Linked DNA regions of Homo sapiens. The protein of the gene in region 1 interacts with the protein of each later gene in a pairwise test. Each region holds a gene or a part of one and is shown in the gene's direction. Other genes may lie near its edges.

What was found. Proteins that work in one complex are often made in the same cells at the same time.
Region 2: the proteins of FAM161A (region 1) and ZNF792 interact in binary tests that used the Homo sapiens proteins (3 or more experiments, as listed by UniProt).
Region 3: the proteins of FAM161A (region 1) and LMNA interact in binary tests that used the Homo sapiens proteins (3 or more experiments, as listed by UniProt).

What each region holds. Positions count from the first base shown.
Region 1 is NC_000002.12:61,823,438-61,830,642, reverse strand, and holds the end of FAM161A (protein FAM161A), read left to right. Parts: intron 1-3,384; coding exon 3,385-3,539; intron 3,540-4,043; coding exon 4,044-4,188; 3' UTR 4,189-5,795; downstream 5,796-7,205. UniProt on the Homo sapiens protein: Involved in ciliogenesis.
Region 2 is NC_000019.10:34,961,230-34,968,957, reverse strand, and holds the start of ZNF792 (zinc finger protein 792), read left to right. Parts: upstream 1-4,728; 5' UTR 4,729-5,295; coding exon 5,296-5,328; exon of another isoform or gene 5,329-5,532; intron 5,533-7,728. UniProt on the Homo sapiens protein: May be involved in transcriptional regulation.
Region 3 is NC_000001.11:156,124,711-156,131,710, forward strand, and holds part of LMNA (lamin), read left to right. Parts: intron 1-1,459; exon of another isoform or gene 1,460-1,493; coding exon of another isoform or gene 1,494-1,513; intron 1,514-1,844; exon of another isoform or gene 1,845-1,941; intron 1,942-2,025; exon of another isoform or gene 2,026-2,092; coding exon of another isoform or gene 2,093-2,205; exon of another isoform or gene 2,206-2,239; intron 2,240-5,116; exon of another isoform or gene 5,117-5,139; coding exon of another isoform or gene 5,140-5,198; intron 5,199-5,906; coding exon 5,907-6,063; intron 6,064-7,000.

The sequences.
Region 1 (7,205 bases):
GCGTGATCTCGGCTCACTGCAACCTCTGCCTCCTGGGTTCAAGTGATTCTCCTGCCTCAGTCTCCTGAGTAGCTGGGATTACAGGTGCACACCACCATGCCCGGCTAATTTTTTTTGTATTTTTAGTAGAGACGGGATTTCACCATGTTGGCCGGGCTGGTCCTGAACTCCTGACCTCAAGTGATCCACCTGCCTCGGCCTCCCAAAGTACTGGGATTACAGGAGTGAGCCACCGTGCCTGGCCTACTGTTCTCATCTTCATATCTGTGTGTACCCAGTTCCTCCCCATTCAGCTGGTCATTGAGAGACCTGTCAAATTTTCTTCCTAAATAATTTTTGGATCTGCCCTTCACCATCCTTGGTGGTGAAATGCCAGGTGGAACCTTTATTTCCTATCTGAATCATAATAGTTTGATTGATTTTTCTGCCTTGCTCTTTGCAGAACCATTCATTATACCTTCGCCTTACCATTTTCATTCCCCTACTAAAATGTTAACCCTGGGTAGACAATTAATAAGCCTTTATAACAGGGACAATCATCCATTCTCACCAATTCCATTTATTCTCATTTTCAATGAATGATATCAAGGGGTCTTCTCATTAACTTCTCAAAAAGTATAAACAGAGTTACCATGGCAGTGAATCGCCATTGCTTTTTTTTTTTAGTACATTTTTTGCTGCAGTCTATTTTGCTGGAACTATTGCTGCTAATTAACAGCTGGTTTTTAATAAATTTGCTTGCAGCTATTTGCTTTGCCCATTTATAGGAGTTAATTGTGGTCTCGCTGCTGCTGAGTGATTCCCTAACACAATATGCCTGTGATTCTTTACAGAATAAACTATGTTGTCCTGTTTCTTGGAAATCACAGGATTAATTAACTGAGAAGATGTTAAATTGAATTTTAAACCAAAGTCAGATGAAGGCTTACTGGCACAAATTTTGACTAATGTCTTTTTAATGTCTTATATATTTAATTTGCTGAAGTCAGAATATACTGTTGGTAATGCATTCAGAGCTAGGTTTGGGGTTTCTTTATTCTTCTCTGCAGTCTTTAGGGTATAGTTCTTATTTCTCATTTTGCCCTTCCTTTCAGCTCCCCAAGACTTGTCTTTTGATATTCACAGACTCTGGATGGGTTTTTACTTACTTTTCTAAAAAATATTATTGTTATTCACAGTGAGTGCGTTTTAGCAGCAGTGTTTCTTTTTCAGTTTTCCAGAGTATCAGGAAATGCCCTGGTGATAGTTTTATCTATTGTAATCAGTCCTTGCTATTTCAGGTTCTCCTGTGTAACACTAGACTCCATGGCCCCTCATTATACTAGATTTGGCAAATATCTGACAACTACGTTGCTCAAGTCAGGCTTTAGGTCACCTTCAAACTCTTGACGACCACTACCACTTAGAGAAAGTAGCATGATGTAATATAAAAGACCTAGGAAATGGTCAAGAGACTTGGTTCTACCACTCACTAGCCTTGTGACCTTAGTCAATTTCACCTTTGAGGCGGGGGCCGGGGGAGACTTGGTTTCTTTATTAAATATGGGGGTTAGACTGGGTACTCCTCCACACCCTTCCCAGTATGAATGCCATTGGTACATTGGAACTGGGCCATTCCTAGTATTAGGAATGCTTGCTTTACTTGGAGGTCTTAGCTTTAGTTGGAGGTCCAGAGGGCAATTCTTGGCCCTCTAACAGTTCAGATCCACTCATGGGAGCTAAAATGGGCTAAAGTGGAGGCACTAGTGTGAACCCAGTCACTATGTGGCTCCATAAAGCCTGCCATCTCTGGAGCTGTGATGAGAGGGTCATCACAATTCCAACAGATCTTAAAGCCGGGAAGTGACATTCTACAGATTTGAACCCAGTTCTAAATTCATATTCTTTTTGTTATATCCCTTGCTTCCTCCACAGAGTAAAGATTACAACACTGGTGCTTTTATCATCTTTAATGGATTGGGGATATGGCTTATAAAGAGTAAAAATTACAGTAGATACATAAAATAAAAGAAATTGGCTGGGTGCCATGGCTCATGCCTGTAATCCCAGCACTTTGGGAGGCCAAGGCCGGTGGATCACTTAAACCCAGGAATTCAAGGCCATCCTGGACAACATAGTGACGCCCCGTCCTACAAAAAATACAAAAATTAGCTGGGCATGGTGGCACGCGCCTATGGTCCCAGCTACTCCAGAGGCTGAGGTGGGAGGATCGCTTGAGCCCAGCAGGTTGAGGCTGCAGTGAGTTGTGTTTGCACCACTGCACTCCAGCCTGGGTGACAGAGCAAGACCCTTTTTCAAAAAAAAAAGGAAAAAGAATCCTCTGACAACAATTATTGCATGAAATCTTTTTTTTTTTTTCAGATATCTTTATACAGTCATAAAAGTATATAAAACCTAGGTACAATATAAAAAATAATTATAGATCAATCTAATGTGGCCACCACCCATGTTAACAAATAGACCATTGCCAGCACCCCAAAAACCCTATGTGCCATTGCAGATCACAGCCCTCTACCTCTCCCCAAGAGGTAACCACCATTCTAACTTTCAGGATAAGTACTTCCTTGTTTTTCTTTGCAATTTTACAGTGTGTGTACCTATCCTCAAACAATATAGTTGTTTTGCCCATTTCTGAACTTTATATAGATCATACAATATGTACTTGTCAGTGCTTTGCTTCTTTTGCTCAGTATTATATTTGTGAGATCTATCCATGTTGTGGCATGTAACTGTAGTTCATTCATTTTCCTTGCTTTGTTTCACTCCATTATAGGAATAGACCACAATTTATTTATCCATTCTGCTACTAATAGATATTTGGGTGATTTCCCATTTGGGGTTATTGAAGGACAGTACTATCCTGAACATTCTTGAACATGTCCTCCCTTGGGACTCATATGTGGGAGCTTCTCTGGTTATATTCCTAGGAGTGTAATTGTTGGTCATAGGGTATGCAGATTTTCAAACAACTGTGACTGCTGAACTTAATTATCACCAGTACTTTTAATCCATATTTTTTTTTTTTTTTTTTTTGAGACAGAGTCTTGTTCTGTCACCCAGGCTGGAGTACAGTGGCGCGATCTCGGCTCACTGCAAGCTCCGCCTCCCAGGTTCACGCCATTCTCCTGCCTCAGCCTCCCGAGTAGCTGGGACTACAGGCGGCCACCACCACGCCCGGCTAATTTTTTGTATTTTTAGTAGAGACGGGGTTTCACCGTGTTAGCCAGGATGGTCTTGATCTCCTGACCTCGTGATCCACCCGTCTCGGCCTCCCAAAGCACTGGGATTACAGGCGTGAGCCACCGCGCCTGGCCTAATCTATACATTTTTGATGAAAATTTAAAGTCTTCTGTTCTCGTCTAAAAAGGTTTGTCTTTCCTATAGAAAAATGCAAGAATGGCAGCAGAAAAGCATTATTCTAATACCCTAAAAGCACTAGGAATATCTGATGAGTTTGTTTCAAAGAAAGGCCAAAGTGGAAAAGTACTTGAGTACTTCAACAATCAAGAGACGAAAAGTGTCACTGAAGACAAAGAAAGGTAACATATATAAGATGTCTGAATGGCTTACCTTTGAAAAAATTATTACCTGCAGAAAAGCACAATTTTATACTATGTATATTTTTTGTTCTATATTGTTTTAAAAAGATCTTTTACCCAATAGTAAAAGACATATGAACTGTTGTAAAACACACTGATATTTTAACATGTTTGACACATTAACGTTCACATGAAGTATTTTATTTTTAAAGCAGAATAACAGATTTCTTAAAGACATAAGTAACAAAAATAATAGCATGCTTTCAAATGAAGTTTAAAGAAACAATCACTCAAATTTTGAAATAAATTAGTTTTCAGGAATATTAAATTTCTCAATGGGCACTTTTATAGCGTTTTCTTCTTTTTTTTGAGTTGTCTTGGTAACAAATTGGAATTCATACACTTGAGGAAGACTGGCTACACGGTGGCATACTTGCAGAGGGTTTGTTTACCTTTAAACCAACTCATTTTTCCTTTGAAAGATTGATAAATTTCTTCCCCTAGCTTTAATGAAGAAGAAAAAATAGAAGAAAGAGAGAATGGGGAAGAAAATTATTTTATTGATACCAACAGCCAGGATTCTTACAAGGAAAAAGATGAAGCCAATGAGGAAAGTGAAGAAGAGAAATCTGTTGAAGAATCACACTGAATCATCAAGGTCTCCTCTCTATGCCCTTGCTGTTGTTTGCAGCGTCAGGGTGTCAGCAGCCGCATTTGTGTTTAGAACATCTGTGGGGACGCTTCTGATATGTGCAGGGCTGTTGATCAAAGTCATCTGTAGCCTGAAAAGCCTGAATCCAGCTGATTGGTCATTTGATCAGTTAGAGTAAGGCTTTGCCTATTCAGTTTTAAAAATCATTGTGTATTATCTGTTTGCAACTATGATTTTGTATTTTTAAAAAGTGAGAACCACAGCTGTCACAAACTGATTAGTTATAAAAATATACATTATTTCATTAATTTTACTGGAAAAAATGGCTTAGTATTGAAAGGAGAGAGAAGTATTGGTCTTTGGTGGTTTACTTTTTAAAAATTTTGGAAAGTGTGAATCAATAACTATTTTTAATTATACTATTTGCCCATTCTTTTTCTCTGCAGTGCATTTCACAGAATAAATCCTCTAACTTGTTTTGCTGCTCTGAGCCATTTTTAAAAGTATAGAAAAAACGCCGGGTATGGTGGCTCATGCCTGTAATCCCAGCATTTTGGGAGGCCGAGACGGGTGGATCACGAGGTCAGGAGATCGAGACCATCCTGGCTAACACGATGAAACCCCGTCTCTACTAAAAATACAAAAAATTAGCCAGGCGTGGTGGTGGGCGCCTGTAGTCCCAGCTACTTGGGAGGCAGAGGCAGGAGAATGGCATGAACCCAGGAGGCAGAGCTTGCAGTGAGCCGAGATCGCGCCACTGCACTCCAGCTTGGGCAACAGAGCGAGACTCCGTCTCCAAAAAAAAAAAAAAAGTATAGAAAAAAATGGATACTTGCAAATTTACATTTATTTTTGCACTGAGAGTTTACTGTTAAATTGTCTACACCATCATCCCTTTTTCTTTTTATCCTTAGTTCTAGTCCAAATTATTTTTGATTTGTAAATTATTAGGAAAGTTTTTATACTAGTTTTTTTAACCCTATGTATTATTACAGATGGAAGTAATTATGGCATGTGTGAGTTATAATCTAAATTAGGGGCAAGTATCCCTTTTTTTATATGATGAAATTGTGCATAATAACTTGGCTAGGGCAAGTCTCCAAAGTAATTCAGATTTAACTCTTCACTGCTAGACCCAGTTGTGTTCAACTTTTTACATATTATTGCCAACACACTTTATCTCTCTGTGTACAGTGTTAATCTGATTTTATAAATCTATATTTTTTTCTTTAAGCAAATTTTTGTTTTAAAATTTGAAGCCAATCATAAAGATAATATAGCATAAGACATTTTCTTTTCTAAAAACAATCAGCATCATTTTAAAAGGATGAACTAATACAGGTGTATGTAATAGCAGTGTTTCCAAACTGGCAATTTATGCTTTAAATTTAAAAATAAGGTCATTTTTCTCCATCAGGGGCAAATGTTTACTTGTAATTTTCTTCCTACAGTTCGTGTTAAATTACTTTTTACTATTATTATATTGTAAACTCCTTGGGATTTGGCACCATTTAAAAATTCATCTTTGTATTCCCTTAATATTTGGAACAGTATTGTACATATGGTAGGTACTTAATAAAGGTTTGAATGAGTGTGTAGATGAATATGGTTTTTATATACTTACAGCTACTTCAGAATGAGTACACATGGGATTAAAAACATTTCCCTCCTAGCTCATTGGGAGCCTGTGAAACACAATCTACAAATTGTAATAGTACTTAAAACATTACTTGCTTTCAAGGATTCACTCCACAGCCTGTCCCTTCTCAATTTCATGAGGAGAGTGTGGGCTTTGGTCATGAAACACTTGGCTTCAGGACCAATCTTGTTTTCTTACCTTTAAAAAAAAAATGGGAATATTACCTATCTTGAGTGGCTGTAGGAAGGACTGGATGAAATCATATATGGAAAGGTCTTTGCAAACTGTGATATTCAAATGATGGTGTCAGAAGACAGAATATTCCTGAGGAAACTGTTAACTTAAAATACTTGTACTTAAATGAGATACACTGTGATTTAAATATTATTTGGTTAGAAATAACTTTTGAAGCACTTTGTTAGACATGATCTGGTTAACACAGAACCAAAGTTAAAAAAAGAGGGAGAGAGACACTGACAGTTTCAAATCATTCTGTGCATATCACTGTTCACTTTGGGAGGCCGAGATGGGTGGATTATGAGGTCAGGAGATCGAGACCATCCTGGCTAACACGGTGAAACCCCGTCTCTACTAAAAATACAAAAAAAAAAAAAAAAAATTAGCCAGGCGTGGTGGTGGGTGCCTGTAGTCCCAGCTACTCGGGAGGCTGAGGCAGGAGAATGGCCTGAACCTGGGAGGCAGAGCTTGCAGTGAGCCGAGATGGCACCACTGCACTCTAGCCTGGGTGACAGAGTGAGACTCCATCTCAAAAAAAAAAAAGAAAAAAAAGACATCAAATTGACAGCTGAAAGATTACTTTAGCAGGTCACATTACACAGTGATGGTTAGAAGTCAACTGGTTAAATCAAACATGTTTTCAGGTGTTAGGTAACTGAAAATTTTTTACATTTGTATCATCTGAATTGGCTCCAGAATTCTTTTTACTTATGGGATTTTCCTTTATACAAGAGTAACCTAACATCAAGAAAAAGGTTATGCTCTTTTTTTCTTTCATAATATTACTGGGTACCCTATTACTTCATACTTATTTCCGCAGAGAAAATGGCCTGGGGACTTATTGGAGGATTAAGTTATTTTACACATACACAAACACACACGTATATATGTATCTATAAATATGATGGAAGTCTGGATGTGGTGGCTCATGCCTGTAATCTCAGCACTTTCGGAGGCAGAGGAAGGCGGCTCACTTGAGGTCAGGAGTTCAAGATCAGCCTGGGCAACATGGTGAAACCCTGTCTCTACAAAAAATACAAAAGTTAGCCAGGCGGGGTGTCATGCACCAAGTAGTCCCAGATACTCGGGAAGCTAAGGTGGGAGGATTGGTTCAGCCCAGGTGGTTGAGGCTGCAGTG
Region 2 (7,728 bases), on another chromosome or scaffold:
AGGTTGAACCGGAGGACATTATATTAAGTGAAATAAGTCAGGCACAGAGGACAAATACTACATAATCCCACTCATATATGGAACCTAAAAAAGTTGTCTCATAGAAATAGAGTGAAATGTTGGTTACCAGAGGCTGAGGTTGCCAGGTGGTGGGAGTGGGGCAATGTTGGTCAAAGGATATAAAATTTCAGGTAGCTAGGAGGAATAAGTTCAAGAGATCTATTGTACAACCTGGTGACTGTAGTTACGGTGTATTCTTGACAAATGCTTAAAGAGTAGATTTTAAGTCTTCTCAACACAAAAAAGATAACTAAGGCTGGTGCCATGGCTCACACCAGTAATCGCAGCACTTTGGGAGACCAAGGCAAGGAGGAGTGCTTGAGCCCAGGAGTTTGAGACCAGCCTAGACAACATGGTGAAACTCCATCTCTGCAGAAGATACAAAAAACTAGCTGGGTGTTGTGGTGCACGTCTGTAGTCTCAACTTCTCGGGAGGCTGAAGTGGGAGGATGGCTTGAGCTCAAGAGGTCAAGGCTGCTGTGAGCCACGATAGTGCCACCGTACTCCAGCCTGGGTGAGAGAATGAGACCCTGTCTCAAAACAAAACAATGTGAAGTGATGCATATGTTAATGAGCTTGATTTAGTCATTCTGAAGCAGGATATTTCCCTGACCCCTTCTTGGATGGGAACTAGAGTACATGGGCGCTGTCAGGGACGAACTCCACTCGCTTGTTGTTCCACCCCTCATGGGGAGGGGAGCACAGGTGAGTGGGTGCAGGAGACAGGGTGAGGGCTTTTGGGTGCTGGCAAGAGCAAATTCCATACTAGCCCCACGGCAGTGTCTAGGGGAAGGTGCTGTGACCCCTGAAGCCCCTGACGAAGTGTTACAGTGCCCTTTTAGCTTTGCCATCCATGCATAGCTTAAGTGTTAACAGCTCAGTGGAGGGTCAGTGCGACAGCCTTTTGTACCCACACTCATGGCACCCAAGTTTTTGTCTGGCATCCAGGAGGAATGAGGTCACACAAACAAATTGAAGATGGTAAATGCAGGGGATTTTATTGCCGGTGAAAGTGGCTCTCAGCAGGAAGAGGAGCTGAAAAGGGGATGGAGCAGGAAGGTAATCGTCCCCTGAAGTTTGGCCATCCCTGGCCATCCTCTCCAAAGCTACGCTGTCAAGCTGTCCCTTTGAAGTCAGCCTGCTTCTCTCCAACATCCAACCATAGTCTCCAATGTCCAGCTGCTTTTCTTCTCTCTGCCGGCTGAGCCTGGGGTTTTTATGGGCATAGGATGGGGGGCAGGGTGAGCCACGGGTGGTTTTGGAAAAGGCAACATTTGAGTGGGAAAACAGGGATGTAAGTTCTCACTTTGGGCCGTGGTATCAAGATTTTCAGCTTGATGGACCTGGCCTCTTCTGCCCAGAATTTCCCTACCTCCTGTCCCTATCAATTCCACAATGTATCTATATTTCAAAACATCATGTTGCATACAATAATTATATATTATTTTATAAATTTAGAAAAACAAAAAAATGCAGCTATAAGAAAATAATAAAATAAAATCAAGTAGGCAAATGTTACTATGGTGTGCTTTCATGTAAAAATCATAACTATTCCCTCTGAGGCGGTACTTGCTGAGTTAGAGTCATTGTATATTTTGACAAACATCCAAAAGACTGCACAGAGGTGTCTCTTCCCTGCCGCCCCACAGCAGTGTTTGTAAGATTCTTGTGATGATGGTGTTGGTAATGACAATAGCTTTTATGCACCCAGCAGGAATTCTGTCCTGGGCCCTGTTATCTACCATTGTAACCACCCAATGGGTTCTTTTTGCCTGCTACAAAAAGACCACGGCATTGCAGTAAACAAAGTCTTTAACTGACACAGGGCCAGCCATGCCATGGGAGAAACAGAGTTATTACTCAACTTGATCTCCCTGAAAATTCAGTGATCAGAGGTTTTCAGGGATAATTTGGTGGGTGGGGGGCCAGGTAGTGGGGAGTGCTGATTAGTTGGGTTAGAGATGAAATCACAGGGAGTCAAAGTTGACTAACTGCACTGAGTAAATTCCAGGGTGGGGACCACAGGACCAGATGACCCAGTTTATCAATCTGGGTGGCACTAGCTGATCCATCGAGTGCTGGGTCTGAAAAATATCTCGAGCACCAATCTTAGGTTTTACAATAGTGATGTTATCCCCAGTAGCAATTGGGAAGGTTTAAAATCTTGTGACCCCTGGCCCCTGGCTGCATGACTCCTAAACCATACTCTCTAATCTTGTGGCTTTTGTTAATCCTACAAAGGCAGTCTGGTCCCCAGACAAGAAGAGGGTTTGTTTCAGGAAAGGGCTGGGTTTTTTTGTTTGTTTTTGTTTTTGAGATGGAGTCTCGCTCTGTTGCCCGGGCTGGAGGCGATCTCAGCTCACTGCAAGCTCTACCTCCCGGGGTTCATGCCATTCTCCTGCCTCAGCCTCCTGAGTAGCTGGGACTACAGGTGCCCGCCACCACACCTGGCTAATTTTTTGTATTTTTAGTAGAGACAGGGTTTCACCATGTTAGCCAGAATGGTCTCGATCTCCTGAACTCGTGATCCGCCTGCCTCGGCCTGCCAAAGTGCTGGGATTACAGGGGTGAACCACCATGCCCGGCCTAGAGGGAAAGGGCTGTTATCTTTGCTTCAAAGTTAAACTGTAAACTGAGTTTCTCCCAAAGTTAGTTAGGCCTATGCTCAGGAACGAACAAGGACAGCTTGGAGGTTAGAAGCAAGATGGAGTTGGTTAGGTCAGATCTCTCACTGTCATAATTTTCTCAGTTATAATTTTTACAAAGGTGGTTTCACCATATGACATGTAGTATCGGGGGAACCCACCCCCGATAATTCAATGTGGGTTCTTTTCTATTTTCCCTAAGTGTCGGCTGGTCTGAGAAATAAAGGGAAAGAGTACAAAAGAGATAAATTTTAAAGCTGGGTGTCTGGGGGAGACATCACATGTCAGCAGGTTCCGTGATGCCCCCGAGCCATAAAACCAGCAAGTTTTTATTGGCAATTTTCAAAGGGGAGGGAGTGTACGAATAGGGTGTGGGTCACAGAGATCACATGCTTTAAGGGCAACAAAAGATCACAAGGCAGAAGGTCAGGGCGAGATCACAAGGTCAGGGCAAAACTAGAATCACTCATGAGCTTCCATGTCCTGCTGTGCACGCATTGTCATTTATAAACATCTTAACAGGGTTCAAGAGCAGAGAACTGGTCTGACTAGAGTTCGCCAGGCTGGAATTTCCTAATCCTAGCAAGCCTGGGGGCGCTGCAGGAGACTAGGGTGTGTTTCATCCCTATCTACATGTGCATAAGGCAGACACTCCCAGGGCAGCCATTTTAGAGGCACTGCCCTGGGAATGCATTATTTTCCCAGGGCTGTTAATTATTAATATTCCTTACTGGGGAAAGAATTCAGCGATATTTCTCTTACCCGTTTTTGGTAATAGGAGAAATATGGCTCTGTCCTGCCCGTCCCACAGGCAGCCAGACTTTAAGGTTATCTCCCTTGTTCCCTGAAAATCGCTGTTATCCTGTTCTTAAGGTGCCCAGATTTCATATTGTTCAAACACACATGCCCTACAAACAATCTGTGCAGTTAACGCAATCATCACAGGGTCCTGAGATGACATACATCCTCAGCTTACGAAGATGACAGGATTAAGAGATTAAAGTAAAGTCAGGCATAGGAAATCACAAGAGTATTGATTGGGGAAGCGATACATGTCCATGAAATCTTCACAATTTATGTTCAGAGATTGCAGTAAAGACAGGCATAAGAAATTATAAAAGTATTAATTTGGGGAACTAATAAATGTCCATGAAATCTTCACAATTAATGTTCTTCTGTCACGGCTTCAGCAGGTCCCTCCGTTCGGGGTCCCTGACTTCCTGCAACAATGTAGTGTTATTTTTCCCATTTTATTTACTGGATTTCAATGAGAGTCCCTGCTGTAAAGTTGGAGCCAGCATTGGAGTCCCCAGAGGGCTTGTTAAAACAGAGAAGGAGGCCTGGCACCATGGCTCACTCCTGCAATTCCCAACACTTTGGGAGGCCGAGGTGAGAGGATCACTTGAGCTCAGGAGTTTGAGACCAGCCTAGGCATCACAGGGAGATCCAGTCTCTACAAAAAATTTTAAAATTAGCTGTGTATGATGGTGCACGCCTGTATCCCATCTACCTGGTAGGCTGAGGCAGGAGGATAGCTTGAGCCCGAGATGGAGGCTGCAGTGAGCTATGATCAGGCCACTGCACTCCAGCCTGGACAACAGAACGAGACCCATCCCCCCCGCCCCCCCCGCAAAAAGTAGAGAAGGCTGAATCCCATCCCCAGAATTTCTGAGTCCTTAGATTTAAGTTGTTGCCCCAGAACCTGCATTTTCAGCCAGTCCCCAGGTGATGCTGATGTTGCTGGTTTGAGAAGCCCTGAATCAGAGCGACATTTAATATTACAACGCAAAGACCCCGCCCATTGGGTACTATCCCCATTTTCCAGTGTGAATTTAGGTCCCTTAGGGGTGAAGCGGCTGGCCGATGCCCACACGCGCAGGAAGAGCACTGGGGCTCTCCTCCTGGACCTCGGAGGGTGGGCGGGGTTTAGCGCGGGCGGCTGCAGGCTCGGGAGCGGCCCCTTTAAGGGGAAGGCCCGAGGGCTGCAGGCGGCGGCGGTGGAGACCCGACGAGATCCGCTCTCCTTCCCGCCCTGGACCCTCAGCCTGACGAGAGGCTGGGCAGAAACTCGCGATCCCCAGGCCCTGCCTGTGCACCAGCGGCTGGCGCCAGGCCAATGACAGTACGGGAGAGGGCAACTCTCCCGGCCGCCACGGTGGGGGCCGGAACTTCCTGCACTGCAGCCTCGCAGGTCATTTCCCGGCGGGGAGGCTGAGTCCCCAGGAGCTGGGGACCCCGAGTTGGGGGCGGGGCGGCTGGGGCTACGCCCGTGAAGCTGCCCCGCCGGCTTTCCCGGACCGCGAGGGGGACAGTGAGGCCGGGACCCCCTCCGCGCCTTTGCACCAGCCGTGACCCCTTGCAACGGGGGTACCCAGCGGAGCTGCGCGCTCTCGGCGCCCCCGGAGCCTGCGCCCCGGGCCCCTTGCGCATTTTGCACGGGGGAGACTGAGGCTAGGAGTGCGACCCTCAGCCCGGGGTCACACCTCGTCTGGGGCACGGCCAGGTGGGTGGTAGCCTCAGCCTGCGAGACCCCCTACCCCCGCCCCGTGGTTTCCCGCACCGTGGGGCCCTGCTCTGACCACAGACTCCGATGGCAGCGGCGGCGCTGCGGGACCCCGCGCAGGTGAGTGCTTGGACGTTAGGCCCTTCGCTGTCGGCCCCCCACGCTTCTGTTCTCGGTGTTGAGACGCAAAAGATGGCTTTGTTCTAGGACTTTTCGCCTTTCCCATTTCCTTGCTTTTGAGTCAGGGGACCCTGGAAGGGAGTTGCTCCCAGCTAGGATCCTGAATCAGGGCAGGGTTTATATAAAGTGGCTTCCGTTGCTGAAATGTAATGGGATGGAGGGAGAAAGGGCTTTGTAGGCACAGGAACCAGCGTGCGCAAAAGCTTGGGGGTGGGGTGGGGCACGGTGTGGAGACTGAGTTGGGAGTGTTCAAGGAACCCCACCCAGGTCAGTGTTATTAATATTATGTCTGCTGGAACCAGAGAGCAGGTGGGCTGAAGACAGCTCAGAACGGCAGAGCTGGGCCTCTGTTCTGAGGGTGTTGGGAGCCATGGAAGGTTTAGGGCAGAGGAGGAAGATGCTGTGACTCAGGTCTTAACAGGCTCCCTGTGGATGCACAGTGGAGAACTGAATATGGAGTGAGCCGCAAGCAGGGATGCCAAGGAGTAGCCTAATGGAATAGCCCAGGCCAGTGCTGCGGCTGGCCGGACCAGAGTGAGGACTGGAGGTAGAGGAAGTGATTGGGAACTTGATGTCTTTTAAGTCAAGCTGACCAAATTTTCCGATGTGGAGGGTGAGAAAGAGGAGGGAAGAATCCATGGTTTTTGGTTTGATGAATCCAGCTTTATGAACTGAGAAGTTGGTTTTAGGAGGAATTTTCCATGGAAGCAGTAGAAGTTAGGTTTTGGCCAAGTTGAGCCTGTGATGTCCCAGAGACCCCCAAATGGAGTTGAAGAGTGGGCCGCTGAACACACAGTTCGGGTGTTCTGAGGGAGTTGTTAAGGTAATGAGAGACTGGATATTCATTCGAACAATGGCCAGATCATGTATACAAATAGAACTCTGCCCCAGAACCTGCCCAGGAAACCAACCCCCTTATCTACAATAAACAACCCATACAGCAGGAAGCCAGCCTGCTGTCTGTCAGACCCACAGGAAGCCAGATTGCTATCTGGACTGACAATCCAGGAAGTAAAAACAATAACTTCTGTAATGAGCAGTCCCAAATGGCCAGGGTTTGATTAATAACAGACAGCTTTCCTCATTTTTGCTCCTGCTTCTGATTTAAGAACAACCAGAGAAAGGCAGATACGCACCCTAACCAATCACATAGGATGCCCACTTCTAGTTCACCCACCTACGAACAGGAGCCTCCAACCAGGGCACGCCTGAAGCCTTCCTTTTCTTTTGCTATAAAACTCTCCCACTCCCGGCTTGCATTGAGTCTCTCTTGCTATAGTGAGCTTTGAGTAAGTAGCCTTGGCTTTTCTCATTTCATTGGTCTTTGTTTATTTCAACAGTTAGAAACATCCAAAATGTGACATCTGGTGTGTGGACGGGAGTGTAGCTGTGTGTGAGATTTAGGAGGTGAAACTTCAGGTCATGGTGACAATGATGTTAAAAAAAAGAGGAAGGTGGGGCTGGAAAACTGAGAGCAGGGTTCTTGCTTGGGGACTGTGGCTTGTTTGGCATCATAAAGACAGGTGAGGAACAGTAGTGGTCATGGTGGTGATGGAGGGGCTATGTGGGTGTATCAGAGGGTCTGGCAGGTGGCCAGATCATCCCAAAGAGTGTAGACATGAATGAGATGGATGCTGAGGCTTAGCAGTAGAGGAGGTAATATTGCAGTGAGGCCTGGGCTGGTGCTTACACACTCACCTATGTTCTCACCAGGCTTCTGTGGTGACCCTTGATGGGGTTTGTCCTCAGGCTGGGGAATTAGCTTGGGGCAAGAGGAGTCAGTTGGCAGAGTTGCTGGGCTTAGGTGGGTGGGGGTAGGATGGCCAGAGGGGTTGGCTTTTTTTTTCTTTTTTAAATGAGTGTGAGTGATGACAGGGTCAGAATGTGCAACAAAGAAGGCCAAGTGTATGTGACATCCATGTGTGCCGTGGGTGGCTTAGGTTGAAGCCAGGCCAGGGGAGCTAGGGGGCTCCAAGGCAAGGGTGGAGCGCTCCCTCTCCCCCTTACCTGGGTGTTGCCCTTGGCAGTGGAGGCCATCAAAGGTCTGGGGCAGGCTGGGATGGTGCTTATGTTTGCCAGGCACTCTCTGGATGCCATGTGCAGAGTGACTCGTGGGAGCCCATGGAGATGGCTAGGATAGGGGCCAGGATGGGGAGAAGGTAGCAGTGGCAATGGGAGGCCGTGGTGAAGGTCTGGAGCTGTGAGGGTGGTGCAGTCCAAAGAGTGAAACGCACGTGGGAGGGAGTATGAGCTGTTCACCCCAGGGCTCTGGACTGGGGTTTAAAGGAGAAGCCCACATTTGTATCTGAGAAGCATGACATTGGTGACACTAGGGGAAGA
Region 3 (7,000 bases), on another chromosome or scaffold:
AGCAGTGGTTACTTTGCCGGGTTGGGGGGGAGGTAGGGGCTATCAAACCTCATGATTGGCCGCACACAAAGGTGTGAGTATGTGTATATTTGAGGGTGGGTGGGAGTGGCACTTTCACTAGGCCTCCGTATCACTCTCTGACTGGGGTATCTCCCAGCAAGCGAGACAGAGGCAGACACGCTTCCCAGACTGTCTTACTGGGTCTCTCTGTGTTATTCTCTGCAGTGTCTGTGTGTATCGTGCCATTTTCTATGTTTTGCACCAATCTGCTGTGAGTGTCCTCAGGTGACCTGGGGGCAGGTTTTTAGTGCCTGAGCCTACCCGTCTCCAGGCTTTAGTTTCCCCCTGTAAAAGTATAGGAGTTGGTTCAAGAGAAGGTTCCTCTAGAAGCCTTGAGCCTGTGAACCGTCTAGTCTCCGGGTATTTGTGGGACACACAGAAAAAGCCCCACGACCCAACAGGTAGAACACTGGCTGAAATCAGCAGGGCAGAGCTGAGACAGGCTCAAGTAGGCTGAGGGGTAGGGAGGTTTTGGGTGAATGGGAGGGAGGGACAGAGAGAAGGAGGATATATTGCAGTAGGAGGAGTTGCTGGAACAAAAGGAGGGGTGGTAGGAGTGGCTTGGGGTGGCAGCAGAAGACGCCCTGTCACATGGCGGGAAGTCAGCCTGGGCAGAGGTCTAGGTGTCCAGGAGGGGCTGGGTGTGGTGGCTCACGCCTGTAATCCCAGGACTTTGGGAGGCTGATGCAGGAGGATCACGTGAGGTCAGGAGTTCAAGACCAGCCTGGCCAACATGGCGAAACCCTATCTCTACTAAAAATGCCAAAAATTAGCTGGGTGTGGTGGCAGGCGCCTGTAATCCCAGCTACTCTGGAGGCTGAGGCACAAGAATTGCTTGAACCTGGGAGGTGGAGGTTGCAGGGAGCCGAGATCGCGCCACTCTACTCTAGCCTGGGCAACACAGTGAGACTCTGTCTCAAAAATAATAATAATAGGGGCTGGGCGCGGTGGCTCATGACTGTAATCCCAGCATTTTGGGAGGTGGAGGCGGGTGGATCACCTGAGGTCAGGAGTCCGAGACCAGCCTGGCCAACATGGCAAAACTCCGTCTCTACTAAAAATAGAAAAATTAGCTAGGCATGGTGGTGCAGGCCTGTAATCCAGCTACTCGGGAGGCTGAGAAGCAGGAGAATCACTTGAACCTGGGAGGTGAAGGTTGCAGTGAGATCACCTGGGCGACAGAATGAGACTCCACCTCAAAATAATAATAATAGTAATAATAATAAATGAAAAATTTTAAAATTAAACAATTAAAAATTTTAAATTAAAATTAAACAAATTAGATGCCCAGGAGGATACAGGAGAGCATTTGCCACCAGGCGGACTCCCTGTACCCACCCGGCCACAGGGGGCGATGTTCCTGGGAGACAGGAAATGCCCAGGGGCTGGGAGACCCTCTGCTCTTCTGCTCCCTTCCTGTGTGCTGCCTGGCAATGGGGAACTCTGAGGGCTGGTGAGCAGGGCTGCTGAGGAGTGGGTCTAAGGAGTCCCTGCAGGGCTGGGCCAGCTCCTCCACCTCCCCTTTGTCTTCCCCTCCCACTTGTTATTTTTAGCTACAGTGTCTGTCCCTCTTGCTTCTCCCCCAGATTGGGAGAGGAAACGGAGGCCTCTCCCTCCGGGCCTAGCCTGTTGCCCCCAGCAACCGGGCCCAAACAGGCCTGTGGCCGGCCCTGGCTTCCATATCTGGCATCAGAGTTGGGCTGAGCAGGGTGACTCAGAGGGTGGGTCAGCGCCTGGCCCGGTGCCCACCTAGCCCCTTTGCTGTGCTGGTGCCTTTCTTCCCCAAACAGCCCCAAGGGCCCGGGCCTGCTGCAGCTGGGGAGCCGGACTTCCTTGTCCCACCAGGCACAGCTCTTCAGACCCCTGCCTTGGGTCACATTTGCAAGTGCCAACTCTCATTTCTACCTTATTCTTTTCCTCTCTGTTCCCCTCCCCACCCCCTCTCTTCCCTCTTTCTGAGATCAGATTTGCCAGTGATGGGAAGAGTTAGAAACAGGATGCCCAGCCCTTCTCGCCTCAAGAGGCCACTGGGATGCAGCCACTCCTGTGCTTGGGGAACCTGGAGGATGCAAGGGAAAGGACTGGCACTCTGCTGGCACAGCACCCGGCCTGGGGCAGGACACGGGCGAAGCCAGGGTCTCCCCTGTGAGCACTAGAGGATTTCCCGACCCCTGCCCGGGTATTGTGTGCCTGAGCATGAGTCACCTGAGGGGCCCAGGTTCCCACCCTTCCCAGCTCCTCTGGCCTGCCCCACCCTGTCCTCCCTGCCAACCCAGCACGGGGACGGCACTCAGCGTGTGCTCAGCTTTCCTGATGCCAACCCCCAGTGGAGTGGGCTGCACCACCACCCTGGGACCGAATGCCTGGCTAGGGTCTACTTTGGTCCCTGCTAGGTCTGAGGACCCCTCCTAGGAAGGAAATGGCACTTGGGGGCGGGGGCAGGGAGGAGGGAGGAGAGACACTGGGCTCTACTGTACCCCTAGTCATCTCTTGGGGTGTGCGTGTGGCTCCCTGGCCACAGAGCTCCCAAGGTCTGAGTCATGAGCCCATGGGTGATAGTGGCTTCTTCCCCGCAGATGGGAGCTCCCCGTGCCTAAGAAAACCACAAAGGTTCTTCCTCACTTCCCTCTCTGCTCGTGGTTTTTCTCATCTGCAGGGTGTGTCTTAGTCCTTTAATCTCCTCTCTTTGCAGTGCTAGTCAAAACCTCCACCAGGGAAAGACAAATAACCCCCTTACTGTTTTTTTTTTTTTTTTTTTTTTTTTTTGAGATGGAGTCTCGCTCTGTCACCCATGCTGTAGTGCAGTGGCACAATCTCGGCTCACTGCAACCTCCGCCTCCCAAGTTCAAGTGATCCTCCTACCTCAGCCTCCTCAGTAGCTGGGACTACAGGTGCACACCACCGTACCCAGCTAAATTTTTTTTTTTTTTTTTTGAGATAGAGTCTCACTCTGTCACCCAGGCTGGAGTACAGTGGTACAATCTCAACTCACTACAATCTCCGCCTCCCAGGCTCAAGCAATTCTCGTGTCTCAGCCTCCCAAGTTGCTGGGACTATGGACGTGCACCACCTTGCCCGACTAATTTTTGTATTTTTGATAGAGTCAGAGTTTCACCATGTTGGCAGGCTGGTCTCGAACTCCTGGCCTCAAGTGATCCACCTGCCTTGGCCTCCCAAAGTGCTGGGATTACAGGTGTGAGCCACCACACTCAGCCAGCCCCCTTACTTTCCTTGGAGACCATATACTGTGGCTTGTGCCAAAGTGGTACAGCATGGATTTCCAGCTCCCCTATCTACTTGCTGCGGGACCCTAGATATAGCTTTCTGTGCCTATTTCCTCAATTGCATAGGAATAGCACCTATCGCATAGGGTAGCTGTGAAGATGACGTGAGTTAACATAATATTTAGAGCAGTGCTTGGTACCTAATAAGCTCTATATAAGTGTTTGCTATTATATTATTATTATCACTGCCACCACCGCTTTTGCAAGCAGCAGAAGGTGAAGAGGTTAGACTGAAGAAAAAACTTCTGTGCTCATCAGCCCATAAGCTCGCAGAGCACAGGGATCATGCATCTATGTTTTCCTCAGTCAGTGTCTGCCAGGCACTGGCAAGGAAAGGCTGTTACCAGGGGGAACTCCAGGAATTCCTCCTGGCACCTAAGGAGGCTGGGGAGACAGGACTAGGGAAAAGGTGCCCTTGAGACACCTTCTGAAATCATCCCATTGCCTTCCAGCTTCTTTCAGCTCAGGCTGGCTGGTCAGGGAAACGCTTTGTGCCATAGTGTCTGCCCTCTTCCTCCTCCTGGCTTCTCCATTCTCTCTGGAACTTGTGGCTTAGGAAAGCAGTGAGGTGGAGGAGGAGGAACCCTAGATCAGCAGCTAGAATTGACTGGAATGCTGCTGCTGGCTTTCGGTAATTGACACTGGGCCATTCACCTTCCTCCTTTGCACCTCAGTTTCCTCATCTATAAAAGGGAGAGGGTTGAGCTGAATCAACTCTAAGCTCCTTCTAGTTCTCTAAATTCTGAGAGCCTCCTAGTACAGCCAGCAGCAGCCATTAGCCTTCAGGGTAGAGAGGCCTCTTCTGGGAAGCCCCAGCCAGCCTGGGGGTCAGCCCAAGGAGCTCGGAATCTAAGTTGCCCCAGTTGCTTCACTTTACCAGCGGTTTTTCTTCATTTTCCCTCCTCCCCCTGCAGCTGCTTCAGCTTCGGAAAAGTTCTGAAGTCATGGAAAGTTGGGGCTGTGCTCCCAGCCAGGGGCTAGGCCGGATGGCAGCCAAAACCTGAGCTGGGTTTTGACTTTATTTTTAGCTTTTCTGACTGAGACAGAGGAGGGAATACATTCTCCGGTTCTGGAAGGGGCTCTTTTTTGCAGGAGACAGACACTTACATTAAACAACTTGTTCTGAGGTGTGGCCAGAGGCCTGGACTGAGCAAGTGTGCAGGCTGGGGGAGCTTCCTCTGGCTTCTCATGTCCTTCCCCTGCCCCTCTGAGTGTCACTCTATCCTCCTCCCTGCCTGGTGGGGGGAGGTGGGGGTGACTCCTTTTTTGGACTCTCCTAAGCAGAACACTGCCTGGGTCTCGTCCTCCAGAGCTTCTGCAAATCTAGCCTTCCCTATCCCTCTTCACAGTGAATTGCTGGGCCTCTTGGAGTTTAGGACTTTTGTGGTAGAAGAAAAATGTTGGCAGGGCTGCTTTTCTCCTTTCCAGGATAGATTTTTCCTTCTGCCCACGCTTGGTTTTCCTTTTTTCCATCTGCTGTGGTGGGCTCATGCTTAAGCACTGATGAGTTACAGATGGCAGCTGGAACCAGGTCCTCTGGATCTTTCCCTCCGCTCCCTGGGTCTGCTGCTTTCTCTCACCCTATATTTGTGAAGCAATTGTAACATCTAGAAAGTTCTTGGGTTCTCTGGAGGTTTTTAAGAAAATAGGACCTTTCTATTTCTCCAGTCCACTAGCAAAAATAATCAGGGGCCCAGAAAAGGTGAGGGAGGTGGCAGAGGCAGCGCTGTTCGACTGGTTATAGCTAAAGCTTTACCCACTTTGAGGAGCAGGGAGGCTTAAAGCTGGGGCCCAGATGGACCTGGAGGCCTGGGATCCACATCTGGAACCAGATGCTGAGGCTATGGTAGATGGGTAGGGCTCAGCCTTCTCCCAGGGCACGGATGAGGCAGGAGGGAGGGAGGCAGGGACCCCTCTGTTCAGTGCAGATCAGGGCACCCAGACTGGGTCCTGAGAAAGGAAAGGGTCAATATTGTGCCTGGTCATCCTTGTCTGAGGTCCCTCTGAGCTCTAACCAGACTTTCCTTCCCCACAGTCCCACATGTGTAAAAGGGACTAGGAGAGGTGACCAGTACCTTTGGGGCTCAGATCGAGAAGTGCTAGGGACATGTGGGCCATGAGCTTAGTTGTCAGGCTCCTCAGAGGGAGGGAAGCTTGGCCAAAGGGAAGTGAGTAGAGTCCAGGGAGAAGGCTAAGTAAGGCCCTGTGTGGGAAGGGGCAGGAGACAAAGGTACCCCTGTCTCTTTGGGAAAGAATGGGAGGAGAGAGAGGGAAAAGCATTCATATCACGGGGTAGAGCTCTGCCCTTGGCCCCAGGCACGTTCCTGAGCCCTGAGTCATGGGAAGGGTGGAGAAGCAGGAAGGGGGTTTTCAAGGACCTTGGGGAGGTGGGAGCCCAGCCCCAGAGGCAAGCAGATGCAAACCAACCTAATGCAAGGATGCCCTCTCCTGGTAATTGCAGGCATAGCAGCGCCAGCCCCCATGGCTGACCTCCTGGGAGCCTGGCACTGTCTAGGCACACAGACTCCTTCTCTTAAATCTACTCTCCCCTCTCTTCTTTAGCAATACCAAGAAGGAGGGTGACCTGATAGCTGCTCAGGCTCGGCTGAAGGACCTGGAGGCTCTGCTGAACTCCAAGGAGGCCGCACTGAGCACTGCTCTCAGTGAGAAGCGCACGCTGGAGGGCGAGCTGCATGATCTGCGGGGCCAGGTGGCCAAGGTGAGGCCACCCTGCAGGGCCCACCCATGGCCCCACCTAACACATGTACACTCACTCTTCTACCTAGGCCCTCCCCCATGTGGTGCCTGGTCTGACCTGTCACCTGATTTCAGAGCCATTCACCTGTCCTAGAGTCATTTTACCCACTGAGGTCACATCTTATCCTAATTTGGCTGCCAATGGGATCTACCACAGTGAATTTAAAATAATCCAGGAGGCCGGGCATGGTGGTTCACGCCTGTAATCCCAGCACTTTAGGAGGCCGAGGTGGGCCGATCACGAGGTCAGGAGATCGAGATCATCCTGACTAACATGGTGAAACCCCGTCTCTACTAAAAATACAAAAAATTAGCCTGGCATGGTGGCGGGCGCCTGTAGTCCCAACTACTCGGGAGGCTGAGGCAGGAGAATGGCGTGAGCCTGCGAGGCAGAGCTTGCAGTGAGCTGAGATCATGCCACTGCACTCCAGCCTGGGCAACAGAGTGAGACTCCGTCTCAAAAAAATAATAATAATAATAATAAAAATAATCCAGGCCATGTGTGGTGGCTCATGCCTGTAATCCCAGCATTTTGGGAGGCCAAGGAGGCAGGATTGCTTGAGTCCAGGAGTTTGAGACCAGCCTGGGCAACACAGACCCCATCTCTAGAAAATAAAAATTTAAAGAAATTAGCTGGGCATGGTGGTGTGCACCTATAGTCCCAGCTACTTGGGAGGCTGAGGCAGGAGGATGGCTTGAACCTGAGAGGTCGAGGATACAGTGAGCTGTGATTGCACCACTGCACTTCAGCCTGGGTGACAGAGGGAAACCCTGTCTCTACATAAATAAATACATAAAATAAAATAATCCACAAGCCATTTCTACTTAACTTTGCAATGAACTGTACCTGACCCTAGATCCCTCCCAGTTTGGCCCTCCGGTATACAAGGGCCTCCTAT